2 linked regions of the Homo sapiens genome follow. The protein of the gene in region 1 interacts with the protein of each later gene in a pairwise test. Each region holds a gene or a part of one and is shown on either strand. Other genes may lie near its edges.

Region 1 (6,764 bases):
ATTATAGGCACTTTTCCAGGCGCTGGAGTTTCAAAGATGAACAGATATTTAGAGTATAGTTGGGGAATAAGACCCATACATTTAAAATTACCATGTAGTGTGCTTAATTAATTAATTAATTTATTTATTTATTTTGAGACGTAGTCTGGCTCTTGTTGCCCAGGCTGGAGTGCAATGGTGCGATCTCAGCTCACCACAACCTCTGCCTCCCAGGTTCAAGCGATTCTCCTGCCTCCGCCTCCTGAGTAGCTGGGATTACGGGCATGTGCCACCACACCCGGCTAATTTTGTATTTTTAGTAGAGACGGGGTTTCTCCATGTTGGTCAGGCTGATCTTGAACCCCTGACCTCAGGTGATCCGCCCGCCTCGGCCTCCCAAAGTGCTACTGCGCCCACCTGTAGTGTGCTTTAATAAAAGAATACAGACTGTTGGAAAGCACAGAGGGGGCCAGTTTTCTACTGTTTCAGGGAACCAGGCAAGGGTTCCTAGAAGGGAGGACACTTGAAGGCTGTGTAGGAGCTGAATGAGCAGACACGGTGGGGAAAGGAGCTTTCATTTCAGAGGGAGTAATGTGTGCAAAGTCATCAAGGATAAGAAGACTTTCTGAAATCAGAAAAAAGGAAGTTTTAGAGGGAAGGAGAAAACATGAGTACAACTGTAGTTAAGTATATAGGTGGTGGACAGAAAGAAGAAGTTGAGGAAGTGTCCTCCTGAGAGCCCTTATTTTCTTTTTTATTTATTAGTTTTATTTTATTTTATTTTGTTTTATTTTATTTTTTTGAGACGGAATCTCGCTCTGTCGCCTGGGCTGGAGGGCCACCGGTGGCGCGATCAGCTCACTGCAACCTCTGCCTCCTGGGTTCAAGTGATTCTTCTGCCTCAGCTTCCTGAGTAGCTGGGACTGCAGGTGCACGCCACCACACCCAGCTAATTTTTGTATTTTTAGTAGAGACAAGGTTTCACCATATTGGCCAGGCTGGTCTCAAACTCCTGACCTTGCAATCTGCCTGCCTCAGCCTCCCAAAGTGCTGGGATTACAGGCATGAGCCACTGTGCCCGGCCAAGCCCTTATTTTCTTTATAAAGTAGCAGGCAATGTCATCCAAGGTGAGGGGATAAGAATGGAAAAGGGGGCTTAAGGAGACTACTGAAGGTGAGGCAGTAAAGCCAACCATGCTCACACAGGAGAATGAGCAGCATTGAGAGACTAGCTGGGAGAAGCAGTAGCATTGTGTTCAGACTTCTCTCTGCCCATTTAGCTAACCTTGACTATCCGTTCTTAGCTCCTTTTGATAGAAATTTCCAACTGGTCTCAATTTTATTTTTTCTTAACTTCTGTGAAAACACCAATCTTTTTGCAGTCCAATATTCCCCTTGGAATTGTTGTAGCATAAATATCTTAAGCTGAAAAAACTATTTTTTTTTTTCTGAGACAGAGTCCCACTCTGTCACCCAGGCTAGAGTACAGTGGCGCAATCTCAGCTCACTGCAGCCTCCGCCTTCCGAGTTCAAGCGATTCTCCTGCCTCAGCCTCCCACGTAGCTGAAAAAACAATTTTGAACACCCACTGTGTGCCTGGTTGTGCAGAACTAAACACAATATAGTCTGCCCTTAAGGAGCTTAGTGATAGAGAATAAGAGAGGAATTGAGAAGGAATACAATAAGTAAATAAATAATAGTACTAAAGGCAGAACATGAAAAGTACATTACAGAAGCATAAATACAGTGTTTGCAGGCTCGGAGTTCATAGCTCAGTTGAGAATATCCTCAGGGTCTCAAGCAGCCCATCTATATAGAACATAAGATTATTTTAAAACCATGAAGAACCACCTGTAAGGTAGGGTGACCTGAAAAGTTAAGTGGCATCGATCTGTAAGCATTATAGAGACAACTCACTTATCTAGCTATTTTATCCAACTGAGAAGGCTTTATTGCTTTACTACCATGTCAGGTGCCTGGCAAAGCAACCCAGCTTTCTGACTTCTTAACTGCCGCCGTTAGTCTCAACTGTCTGGCTACTACTTTCTTGATAGTGGTTCACTCCAAAACTAACTCTTTGTCCTTGTTCCTATGTTGGACCTGCTGCATTTGCATTTAAAACATTTTTTTAAAAATGTTTTTAAGAGGGCCTCACTATGGTGCCCAGGCTAGCCTCTGAATTCCTGGGCTCAAGTGGTCCTCCTGCTTCAGCCTCTCAAGTAGCTGGGACTACAGATATGTGCCATAGTGTCCAGTTTCTACTGAATCTTAATCCTATTCAGCACCAACCAGGGGTCTTCTGGTCCTAACCTCTGAGCCATTTAATCAAGTAGCAGTTTATCTCAGCAAACTCCTTTACCAAAGAGCTTCTTATCCCGACCAACCTACAGTCTAAATATATTTAACCTCATGCCAATCAGCTACATCCTTGCTATACCAAGCCTGAAGCTTAGAGTAAAACCAGAATCATGAACACTTTAATGGAGCAAGCACAACTTGAATTGACTTGTAACTATATTCTTTCAGAACTGAAGCTATTATTCTATATCATAGTTTATTTTGATCAAGTATAACCTTTAGTTTGTGCTGTTCCCTTATTGATGATTTCTAAGCCCACATTTTCTTTTTTTCTTTCTGTTTTTGTTTGTTTGTTTTTTGAGAAGGAGTCTTATTCTGTTGCCCAGGCTGGAATGCAGTGGCTGATCTCAGCTAACTGCAGCCTCCACCTCTTGGGTTCAAACAATTCTCTTGCCTCAGCCTCCAGAGTAGCTGGGATTACAAGCATCAGGCACACGCCACCACACCTGGCTAATTTTTGTATTTTTAGTAGAGATGGGTTTTTGCCATGTTGGCCAGGCTAGTCTCGAACTTCTGACCTCAGTGATCCACCCACCTCGACCTCCCAAAGTGCTGGGATTACAGGCACGAGCCACCGAGCCCAGCCAGTAATCTCATTTTTTAAAGTCAGGCTGGGCACAGTGGCTCGTGCTTGTAACCCCAGCACTTTGGGAGGCCCAGGCGGGCAGATCATGAGGTCAGGAGTTCGAGACCAGCCTGGCCAACACAGTGAAACCTCATCTCTACTAAAAATACAAAAAATTAGCTGGGCGTGGTGGTGGGCACCTGTAATCCCAGCTACCTGGGAGGCTGAGACAGGAGAATCGCTTGAACCCAGGAGGCAGAGGTTGCAGTGAGTGAGATCACACCACTGCACTCCAGCCTGGGCGACACAGCTAGACTCCATCTCAAAAAAAAAAAGTCAAACAAAATATAAACTATTTATCATAGGAATCTCAAAAGCCTAGACTAGATGGGGTATATAGCAGCTCCAAAACTCACCTCACTCCTTAGTTTATGAACAAGCCTCTGCTTGTTTAGAATATACACTTATTCCAACTCCTGACATCCACCACAGAAAGATTGCCTTGTAATTGCAGATATTGCCATATATAGTCCATATGATGAAACCTGAAAGAGTATTTTATTAATTCAGCTTTCAGGCAGATCCCAAAAAACCCATTGGGGGACACATTCTGGCTCATGCTTCAACAACAAGAATAAGCTTGCGAAAGGGAAGAGGAGAGCTCAGAATTGCCAAGATTTATGACAGGTAAATTTTTTTTTATTTTGTGTGTGTGTGTGTGTGTGTGTGTGTGTGTGTGTGTGTGTGTGTGTGTGTAGAGACGGGGTTTTGCCATGTTGCCCGAGCTGGTCTCAAACTCCTAGGCTCAAGCAATCCTCCCACCTTGGGCTCCCAAAGTGCTGGGACTATAGGTGTGAGCCACCACAAGGCTGTAATTATTACTGCCAGATGCTGTGTGTTTGAATTTCTTTCTAAAAAATTATTCAATTTATTGGGAAGTCCCTACTGTTACTAGGTACTAGGGATTGAGGGATTCTATTGACACATAGACTTGGTCCCTGACCTTTCAAAGCATACACCTAGATAATGAAATCATCAATTCCAATTAAATTGTGTTAAATACAAGGTAAGTATCAAGTATGGGAACATATCCTCCTTTCTTTTTGCCAGGTTAACTCTATTTGTTTTTCAGGTTTCAGTTTAAACATCACTTTCTCAGGGAACCTTTCCCTAACCCTTACAGTCTAGGCTACTCAGTATATTATACCCTATATTCTTTCTCAGCACTTTACGTGTTTAATTAAGAATTACAGATTTTGGCCCGGCACAGTGGCTCACACCTGTAATCCTAGCACTTTTGGGAGGCCGAGGTGGGCGGATCACCTGAGGCCAGAAGTTTGAGACTAGCCGAGATCGCGCCACTGCACTCCAGCCCGGGCGACAGAGTGAGACTCCGTCTCAAAAAAAAAAAACAAAAACAAAAAACAAAAAAGAATTGGATAACCTGGGAGGATGTGCTAGACAACCTATGTTTCCATGGAAGGTACTCAGTAATCTTTTAATTTATTTCAAAGTATTTTACAGTTTGCTCCTACATTAGTCTAGTCATAAGAAAGGTGCATACCCCTATAGAATCAGATAAACCTCTAAGGGGCTGCTATACAATGCCTGACACTATACTAAAAGAACATCCAGTTGGCCAGGCGCAGTGGCTCACGCCTGTAATCCCAGTACTTTGGGAGGCCGAGGCAGGCGGATCACCTGAGGTCAGGAGTTCAAGACCAGCCTGGCCAACATGGTGAAACCCCGTCTCTACTAAAAATACAAAAATTAGCCGGGCGTGGTGGCAGGCACCTGTAATCCCAGCTACTCAGGAGGCTGAGGCAGGAGAATGGCTTGAACCCAGGAGGCAGAGGTTGCAGTGAGACGAGATCTCACCATTGCCTGGGGGACAAGAGCAAGACTTCGCCAAAAAAAAAAAATTAAAATAAATAAATGAAAGAACATCCAGTTATCCTTTCACCTGTTTCCAAGTTTGGAGTAATTTTTCTTGACATTCAGAACTTTATATATAGAAGTTGCTCAATAAATGTTTGTGAGGGTTAATAATACTTGTGGGTAAGTTCTGTAGGCCACATTTGGTTGTACCAACTCTGAGATGTCTCTGGAGATTCAGACTGATGGGCACATAATGCCTGTGACATGAATATAGTATTTATAGAAATAGAGCTTTTTATAAACTTCTGTTCCCTTGTATTCTGTTAGTCCTGAGATGCCTGAAAATGAAGCCACCTTCGCAATAACTGCTGGAGGAATTGGGGATGCCAAGGAGTAGGTGGTGAATTGATGCAAATTGCTTCTTAGTGCTTATTAGGAGCTGAAGAAATGGAAAAGCAGTCTCCAATTTCACATCTTGAAATAGAGGTTTTTTCCCACATGTTACTAAAGAAAAGTCAGCAAAGAGATTTAAATCTTATATTTATCTTAAAAGTCCCTGATTTATGATAACTATACATTGTATGTAAATTCAGGGATATGTATATGTATGTTTGTGTGTGTGTGTGTTTGTGTGTGTATACCTGACATATATAGTAGATATATATACCTATTGAAATTCTCTCACTCTGTGTATGTATATATACCTATGGAAAACTAGTTGTTGGGAAAGGAGTACGTGATTCCCTCCCTTTCACTTTTCAAAGTGAGCCACTAAACAGAAAGTCTAAGAGTTCAGAAATGTCCCATTCTCCTAAGGACTTTCCCTTCACCATTTTTCTAGGGTATAGTGCCACTGACTTACATAGCTAGATGTTTTTCCACAAGAGGATTTAAGGGAGGAATGTTTATAGGACACACACACAAAAGCTCTTTCTATTTATAATATCAAACTGCATATTCACCTTTATAGCAACAGAAAACAGACATTAAATTAAGCCAAATTTTAAATCATTTGACTTTGACAAGCAGAAATTACTTTTAAAAAATGTATTTATGGCTGGGCGTGGTGGCTCACACCTGTAATCCCAGCACTTTGGGAGGCCGAGGCAGGTGGATCACTTGAGGTCAGGAGTTCAAGACCAGCCTGGCCAACATGGAGAAACCCCATCTCTACTAAAAATACAAAAATTAGCCAAGTGCAGTGGCATGTGCTTGTAATCCCAGCTACTCTGGAGGCTGAGGCAGGAGAATTGCTTGAACCCAGGAGGCAGAGATTGCGGTGAGCCAAGATGGCACCACTGCACTCCAGCCTAGGTGACAGAGTGAGACTCCGTCTCAAAAAAAAAAAAAAAACTTTTTTAAAATGTTAAAATTAATTTAAATGTAAAATTTCTGAATACTAATCTTAGAAATGTGTAAAAGATATTATTTTGATTGTTAAACAAATAAAATCCTGTTTTCAAAATGCATGTATGGTGAAAATATGTAAAAATTAATATACTAATGACAATATACAATGAAGAGCTTTATAGACTTCAATCTTTATAGACTTTAATGTTACATCAACTTACATGAAAATTCCAGGGCTGGGCGTGGTGGCTCACACCTATAATCCCAGCTCTTTGGGAGGCCAAGGCGAGTGAATTGCTTGAGCCCAGGAGTTTGAAGACCAGCCTGGGCAATATGGCAAAACCCCGTCTCTACAAAAATACAAAAAAATTAGCCAGGCGTGCTGGTGTGTGCCTGAGGTCCCAGCTACTCAGGAAGCTGAAGTGGGAGGATTGCTGGAGCCCAGGAGGTGGAGGTTGCATTGAGCCAAGATAGAGCCACTGCACTCCAGCCTGGGTCACAGAGTGAGACTCTGTCTCAAAAAAAAAAAGAAGGAAAGAGAAGAAAATTCAAGTATTCGAAGTACCATTTGTTACAAAAGGTATTTGATTATTCATGAAATTATTCACTCACTAATTATTATTAATGCTAAGCG
Region 2 (7,028 bases), on another chromosome or scaffold:
GTTCCCAGGGCTGGTCTCAAACTCCTGGCCTTAAGCAGTCCTCCTGCCTTGGACTCCCAAAATGCTGGGACTACAGGCGTGAGCATCGATGTCCAGCCATGTCATCCCTTTTATTTTATTTATTTATAAGATGGAGTGTCACTCTGTCTCCCAGGCTGGAGTGCAGTGGCTCGATCTTGGTTCACTGCAACCTCTTCCGCCTCCTAGGTTCAAGCAATTCTCCTGTCTCAGCCTCCTGATTAGCTGGGATTACAGGCATGTACTACCATGCCTGGTTAATTTTTGTATTTTTAGTACAGATGGGGTTTTGCCATGTTGGCCAGCTGGTCTCCAACTCCTGACCTCAGGTGGTCTGCCCACCCCGGCCTGCCAAAGTGCAAGGATTACAGGCGTGAGCCACAGTGCCGGACCTAATTTTGTTTCAGACAGCGTCTCGCTCTGTCACCCAGACTGGAGTGCAGTGGCGCCAAACCTCCACCTCCCCAGTTCAAGCAATTCTGCCTCAGCCTCCCGAGTAGGCTGGGATTAGAAGCATGCATCACCACACCCGGCTAATTTTTGTATTTTCAGTAGAGACGAGGTTTCACCATGTTAGCCAGGCTGGTCTCGAACTCCTGATCTCAAGTAATCCGCCCACCTTGGTCTCCCAAAATGCTGGGATTATAGGTGTGAGCCACCTTGCCCTGCCTTCCCTTTTAAAGAGAAGGTTTAAATGTGATTTCTAAGAGCTTTCCCTAAATTATTACCATTTTTTTTTTTTTTTGAGACAGAGTCTTGCTCAGTTGCCCAGGCTGGACTGCAGTGGTGCAATCTTGGCTCACTGTAACCTCTGCCTCCCGGATTCAAGGGATTCTTGTGCCTCAGCCTCTCAAGTAGCTGGGATTACAGGCCTGTACCATCACACCTGGCTAATTTTTGTATTTTTAGTAGAGACAGACTTTCACCATGTTGCCCAGGCTGGTCTGGAACTCCTGGCCTCAAGTGATCCACGTGCCTCAGATTCCCAAAGTGCTGGGATTACAAGCACTTTGTGTGAGCCACTGCACCCGGCCTGTTACCGTTTCTTAACTGTTTTCTTATCCTTACATTTTTGTCGTTTTTACTAATTGAAGAAAATGAAGATTCTTAAATATATTTTGCTGTAACAGAAGTATATATGTGTACATCCTTTTTTTTTTTTTTTTTGATGGAGTCTCACTCTGTTGCCCAGGCTGGAGTGCAGTGGCGCGGTCTCAGCTCACTGCAACCTCTGCCTCCCAGATTCAAGCGATTCTCCTGCCTCAGCCTCTGGAGTAGCTGGCATTACAGGCACCTGCCACCACACCTAGCTAATTTTTTTGTATTTTTAGTAGAGACAGGGTTTTACAATGTTGGCCAGGCCGGTCTCCAACTCCTGACCTGAGGTGATCTGCCCACCTTGGCCTTCCATAGTGCTGGGATTACAGGCATGACCCACCACACCCAGCTGTGCATCCTTATCTTTAAAAAAATTTACAAAATAATAAAATTGGGGGTTTAGAGTACTGAACTCATAGGAATTAACTTTATTTCTGTCTCTCAGGAATATATAATTTCATTTTTCATTGTCATAGTGCTAAAATCTTTTCCGTTCCTGTTCCCCAAAATGTCTTAAAGTGTATATGATTACATAATTTACATATTTTTGGATATACCTTTATTAAAAATACAGGTTGTTTTGGAATTGTTTGGTATTTTAGTATTTTTGAGCCCTTTGGCATTCATCAGAATGTGTTTGACTATATTTTTCTATACTTGCTTTTAAAAGTCATTTAGCATCCTTTCACTAGGTTATAGAAACATTAGTAGTCATTAATTACATATGATAGTGTACTAATTCAGTGATTATATATATTTTTTTCTAAATAGGGTTATTGGGGCTGTGCCATCGGCAAAGCCAGGCAAGCTGCAAAGACGGAAATAGAGAAGCTTCAGGTAATAATTAATGCTTGAATTTTTACTATGTCGTCATCCTAATGCAGTGAAATTTTATCACCACAGACATTTCAGTCTAAGGCAGGGATGTCCAATCATTTGGCTTCCCTGGGCCACACATAAAATACACCAACACTAATGATAGCTGATGAGCTTAAAAAAAAATCTCATCATGTGTTAAGAAAGTTTACGAATTTGTGTTTGGCCCCATGTGGCCTGTGGCTGGGGAAGCTCGGTGTAAGGATATAGTGTGGTTTGATGTTGAGAGTTTATGAAGCTGCTAAGTCACTGAATGGGAAAGCTGGTAACATATTATCTGTAGAGTTGTGTTATACATCCCTTTATAGATTCTGAATAACTGCTATAAAGCCTCAATCTAGAAAAACACAACTTTTGATATGATTTCACAAAATCCTTGAAACCTATTTATGAATCTCTGTGAGCTCTAGTTTGAAAATTTTGTTTAAAATTTTGAGTTAATAAAAAGTTATATTTTTCCTATATTCTTTCTTTGGAACACAGCTTTTATGTCTGGCTGTGCTCCACCGGTTCTCTTAGCTTTGCTCCTAGCCAGGTAAGGCATAAAGCCTACACTCTTACGACTACCCACTTTTTCTTTCACAAAATTCAGCTATTAGTGTGAAAAAGTTTTCTTAAAAACTTGGTTTTCCTTTTAGCCATGCGTTGATCAACTTAAAGACTTCATGGATACTGTTTCAATATTATTGATTACCTGTCAGAAACTTGCCTAAAAAGCAGGCATACCATTTATCAGTGTTTTGGTAAACTGAAGTGAGATACAATTTCACATACATTTAATGTTAATGCTGTACTAGAACCCTGCTCAACTAATTACTCATTCAACTTATTTAAGACCAGCTTCTAGAAAATACTTATTAGTGCTTGGCATTTATACAATGCTAAGTTCTAGAACCCCCTATAAAACCTAATTTGTTTCGTATTTTAGTAAAGCTGACAAAAGGATCTTAGAGGTCATTTAGCCCAAGCTCAACTGCAGATTAAACACACTGCATAGGACCACAGAATCAGCTGGTTCTGAACAGTATCCAGACCTTATGAGTCTTAGACCTATGTTCTTTTCCATTGCACACTTACTAGTATGATGCTAGGTTCCTATCTTCTACTCTTTTCCTTTTGTTTTCATCTCTCCATACTATTATATGGAAATTTGAAAATTAGAATATTTATGTCAGTTGAGGGGGATTACCCCTGTAATCCTACCAGTTTGGTAGGCCAAGTTGGGAGGACTGCTTGAGCCCAGTAGTTCCAAGACCAGGCTGGGCAAAAGAGTAAGACCCTATCTCCCAAAACAAAATGTTAGCGAGGTGAGGTGGTGCGTGCCTGTAGTCCCAGCTACTTGGGAGGCTGAGGCAGGAGGACTGTTTGAGCCCCAGCCAGGAGTTGGGGGCTACAGTGAGCTATGATCACGCCACTGCACTCCAGCCAGGGCAACAGAGCGACACCTTATCTCAAAAAAATAAAGGAAATTAGAATATTTAGAGCAGTTACTATCTGTCTTTCTGTAGTTAAATCCTAGCAAGGAATGGGAAAAACAATAAATCCCAGAGAAAAATCAAGAAAAAAAAATCACTTTAATTGAGGAACACTTTCAGTTTGTGACAAAATTATGCTGTGAATCAGGTGTTGCAAATTATGGCCCACTGCCTGCTTTTGTGTAAGTTTTATTGGAACACAGCTACATTCAGTCCATGGCTGCTTTTAGAATACAACAGTAGACTTTAACATTTGGAACAGGGAACAGAAACCAGAGCCATACAGCTAATAAACTTGAAAATATTTACAAGTTGATGCTTTACAAAATCCATCTGCTGACCCCTGCTCTGTACCATTGTTCTCTTCTGATGGTCTGTTTACTAAAAAATAAAAACTTCACAAACATGTAAAAAATAGATTTGCCATTTAAAATGTGCTTTTCAAGTTTGACTTTTTAGGATGCAATTAATTCACTAAATACAGAACTTAACTAAGGACAAAAATTTAAAGATCAGCATTCTTTCCCTTCCCATCACGCTCAACTTAACATGAAGAACTGTAAACATCCTAAGCTTACAACAAACCTATCTAGTTAGACTTCAGTTAACCACTTACACATCCCCCTCCCCCATGAACTATTTGGAAAAAGCTGCAGGCGTAATATTGGATCCCTAAATACTTTATTCTCCTTATACCATTATCAGACCCAAGTATCATCTAATAGTCCATAATCAAACTGCCTAAGCAGTTTCTACACTGTCTTTTTAACTATTTCAAACTATCAAGGTTCGCATTTTCTTCCTTAGAACTTTTAGTCTTTTTCTTCCCCAAAATATTTGAGTCCATGCCAGTTGCCTTTAGTTGTACCCAAATAATGGTTTGTCTATTTCCTAAAAGTAGTACTCTTAAATTTAAATTTAGTGTTATTTTTGTTGTCATTGTTCCTTCTTCCTCATGTGGTTGTGCAGGCAGAGCTTGAGCATCCAGATTTCAAAATTAAAAAATAAAAGATAATCTAGTTTAATATATAGTAGTTGAATCACCTTAAGTCTAGACTGCTGTATGAGCACCCATTATCTTTCACTATATTCCATCATCCCCCAACATATCCACAGTAGATGAAGGGCAGTTTGCTCAAACATTGTTTTGATCCTGTCATGTCTGTTCAGAAATGCCTGTCTATTCAGAAACCCACGTCTAATAACAAAATCTTGGACTGGTTACTATCAAAACCCAACAACATACAGACTCCTCAGCTAGGCCCTAGGGATATTTTTCTACCTTGATTTCCAAATGTTCATTGAAAGAATGCTTAATTCTAATTTGGAAAAAAGTTTTTGGCTTCCCACTTCTGCTTTACACGTTCATCTTTCTTGAAATCAAATCCAATCCAATCTATATTCTAAGAACCTGCTCAAATCTTGGTTCTTCAAAGCTTTCCCTGGTATTTTGCATTTTTGCTTTGAATAGTTCCACGAAGGATAACTTCTTACTCCTTCCTTCATCTTTCTGTATCTTGCATATAGTAAATATTAATGACTTGTTTGCATTTTGTTATCCTAACTTGGCTATAAAGAAAATCAGATGTCTTCACCAGTCGTTCAAACTTCAGGTCTGCCTACAGATTCATAGATGGCTGTGGATTTTTATAATTTTGTCACAAAGTTAGTGGTAACTACAGGTTATCTCAGAATATCTTTTTTGGCGTATAAATTTTTTTCTTTTCCTTTTTTAGACAGTCTCTCTCTCTGTCGCCCAGGCTAGAGTGCAGTGGCGTGATCCCGGCTCACTACAACCTCTGCCTCCTGGGTTCAAGAGATTCTTAGGCCTCAGCCTCCCGAGTAGCTAGGGTTACAGGCGCGCACCACCTCCATGCCCAGCTCTTTTGTATTTTTAAGTAGAGACAGGGTTTCACCATGTTGGTCAGGCTGGTCTCGAACTTCTGACTTCAGGCAATCCGGCCGCCTCGGCCTCCCAAAGTGCTGGGATTACAGGCACAAGCCACTGCACCCAGCCTGGAGTATAAATTTCAAAACATTAAAATATGAATCAGGAAACTTCGATTCTGGTCTTTTTCAGACTTTAGGTTATTTTCCTTGGTTTTATATCTGAGTATAAAAGTGAAAATAGTTATTACACAAGTGGAAAATGTTCTTCTGATGAACAGTATACATTTTATTTTCTATAGATGAAAGAAATGACCTGCCGTGATATCGTTAAAGAAGTTGCAAAAATGTAAGTTGAAATTTTTCTTACCATCCACAAAAATATTTCATTTGACCTTTGCATATATATATTACATTAATCCTAAGAAGCTGTTTTCCTGTAAAATAACTTAGTGTATAATTTTTAGAAGGTAAATTTAACATTCTAAGAAGCCTCACGAAGGAAGAAAATGTTTTTAAGCAATATTTTTTAGTAGTAATGAATAGGATGGGAAAAATAGCTTGACAAAATAAACTCCTGTTACAGGTTAAGGACATATACCATTAGGGTCTTAATTTGTTAGCTCCCAACTTCTCAAATCTCTTAAGTCCTAATAATAGTAATCTTAAGATTGCCTCTATTGTAAGAATGCTTACAAACTTTATAGGTTACAACTAATTATTTCAATACATGATCCATGAAGCTGGCTCATTTATATAATCTGCTATTTATTTGGGAAAGATATGTTTCACTTTTTCAGGTTTATTATAAAAGTTCCTATAACAAGGTAAGAAGAGCAGTATTACAAAACATTTCAACAACCAGCTTAAGAAACCCTGAATAGTTTATTACAGGTATATAAAGTAGAATACTATTAATATGTAACAGGTATTTGGACAGTAAACAATAAAAAAGTCAATTAACCTGGGTAGTGATGTTTCTAAAATTTTGTGATTCTCTAGATCAAAGAGTGTAGACATTTGGTATTACAAAAAGATTCCAACAAAATACGTTGTGTAGCCAGCTTTTTAGATTCAAAAGTTATGGATAATCGTAATTCATAACAACTCTAAGTATTCCACATTAGAACTACATAAACAAGGTCTAGTCAATCACCTGTCTGTATGGTAGTGTATCAGGTTTTACATCTAACAATACGTGGAAGAAAAAAATTCCAATGGGCTCTATTGTTTAATAAACATACTATTTACATCACACTCAGAGTCTCTTATTAACCGGTCCATCATTACTGCTACTGCCTTTACCCCTCTTGCCACCTCCTCCCCTCCGCCCTCCTAGTTTCAGTTGTGAAGCAAGCAGAAGCCATTCTATGATTGTCAGTTAATAATGGCAACACTAGGAACCAACATGCAGCAGAGCTGCTAAGAAAGGAAGTCAGATATCTTCCTTGAATTGTATAGTATGTTATCATGATATACTCTGTTTCCTTCACCGAACCAATCCTTTGAAGTCCTTCTGGAAATCAGTTCTTACCATCTTTTATATTTAGGTATAATGGTAGTCATCTGTTAAGTGTTCCATGTTAGGAAAGCCATCCCTTCATCATTTAAGAAAATGGAGCAGCATGTTATCTTTTACTTAGTTGTAGAAAATCAAGATCCTCTCATATTATA

What was found.
Region 2: the proteins of DMC1 (region 1) and PSMA3 interact in binary tests that used the Homo sapiens proteins (3 or more experiments, as listed by UniProt).

What each region holds. Positions count from the first base shown.
Region 1 is NC_000022.11:38,518,433-38,525,196, reverse strand, and holds the end of DMC1 (meiotic recombination protein DMC1/LIM15 homolog), read left to right. Parts: intron 1-3,472; coding exon 3,473-3,589; intron 3,590-5,107; coding exon 5,108-5,177; 3' UTR 5,178-6,249; downstream 6,250-6,764. UniProt on the Homo sapiens protein: Participates in meiotic recombination, specifically in homologous strand assimilation, which is required for the resolution of meiotic double-strand breaks.
Region 2 is NC_000014.9:58,261,818-58,268,845, forward strand, and holds part of PSMA3 (proteasome subunit alpha type-3), read left to right. Parts: intron 1-1,887; coding exon 1,888-1,953; intron 1,954-3,547; exon of another isoform or gene 3,548-5,576; intron 5,577-5,656; coding exon 5,657-5,703; intron 5,704-7,028. UniProt on the Homo sapiens protein: Component of the 20S core proteasome complex involved in the proteolytic degradation of most intracellular proteins. This complex plays numerous essential roles within the cell by associating with different regulatory particles.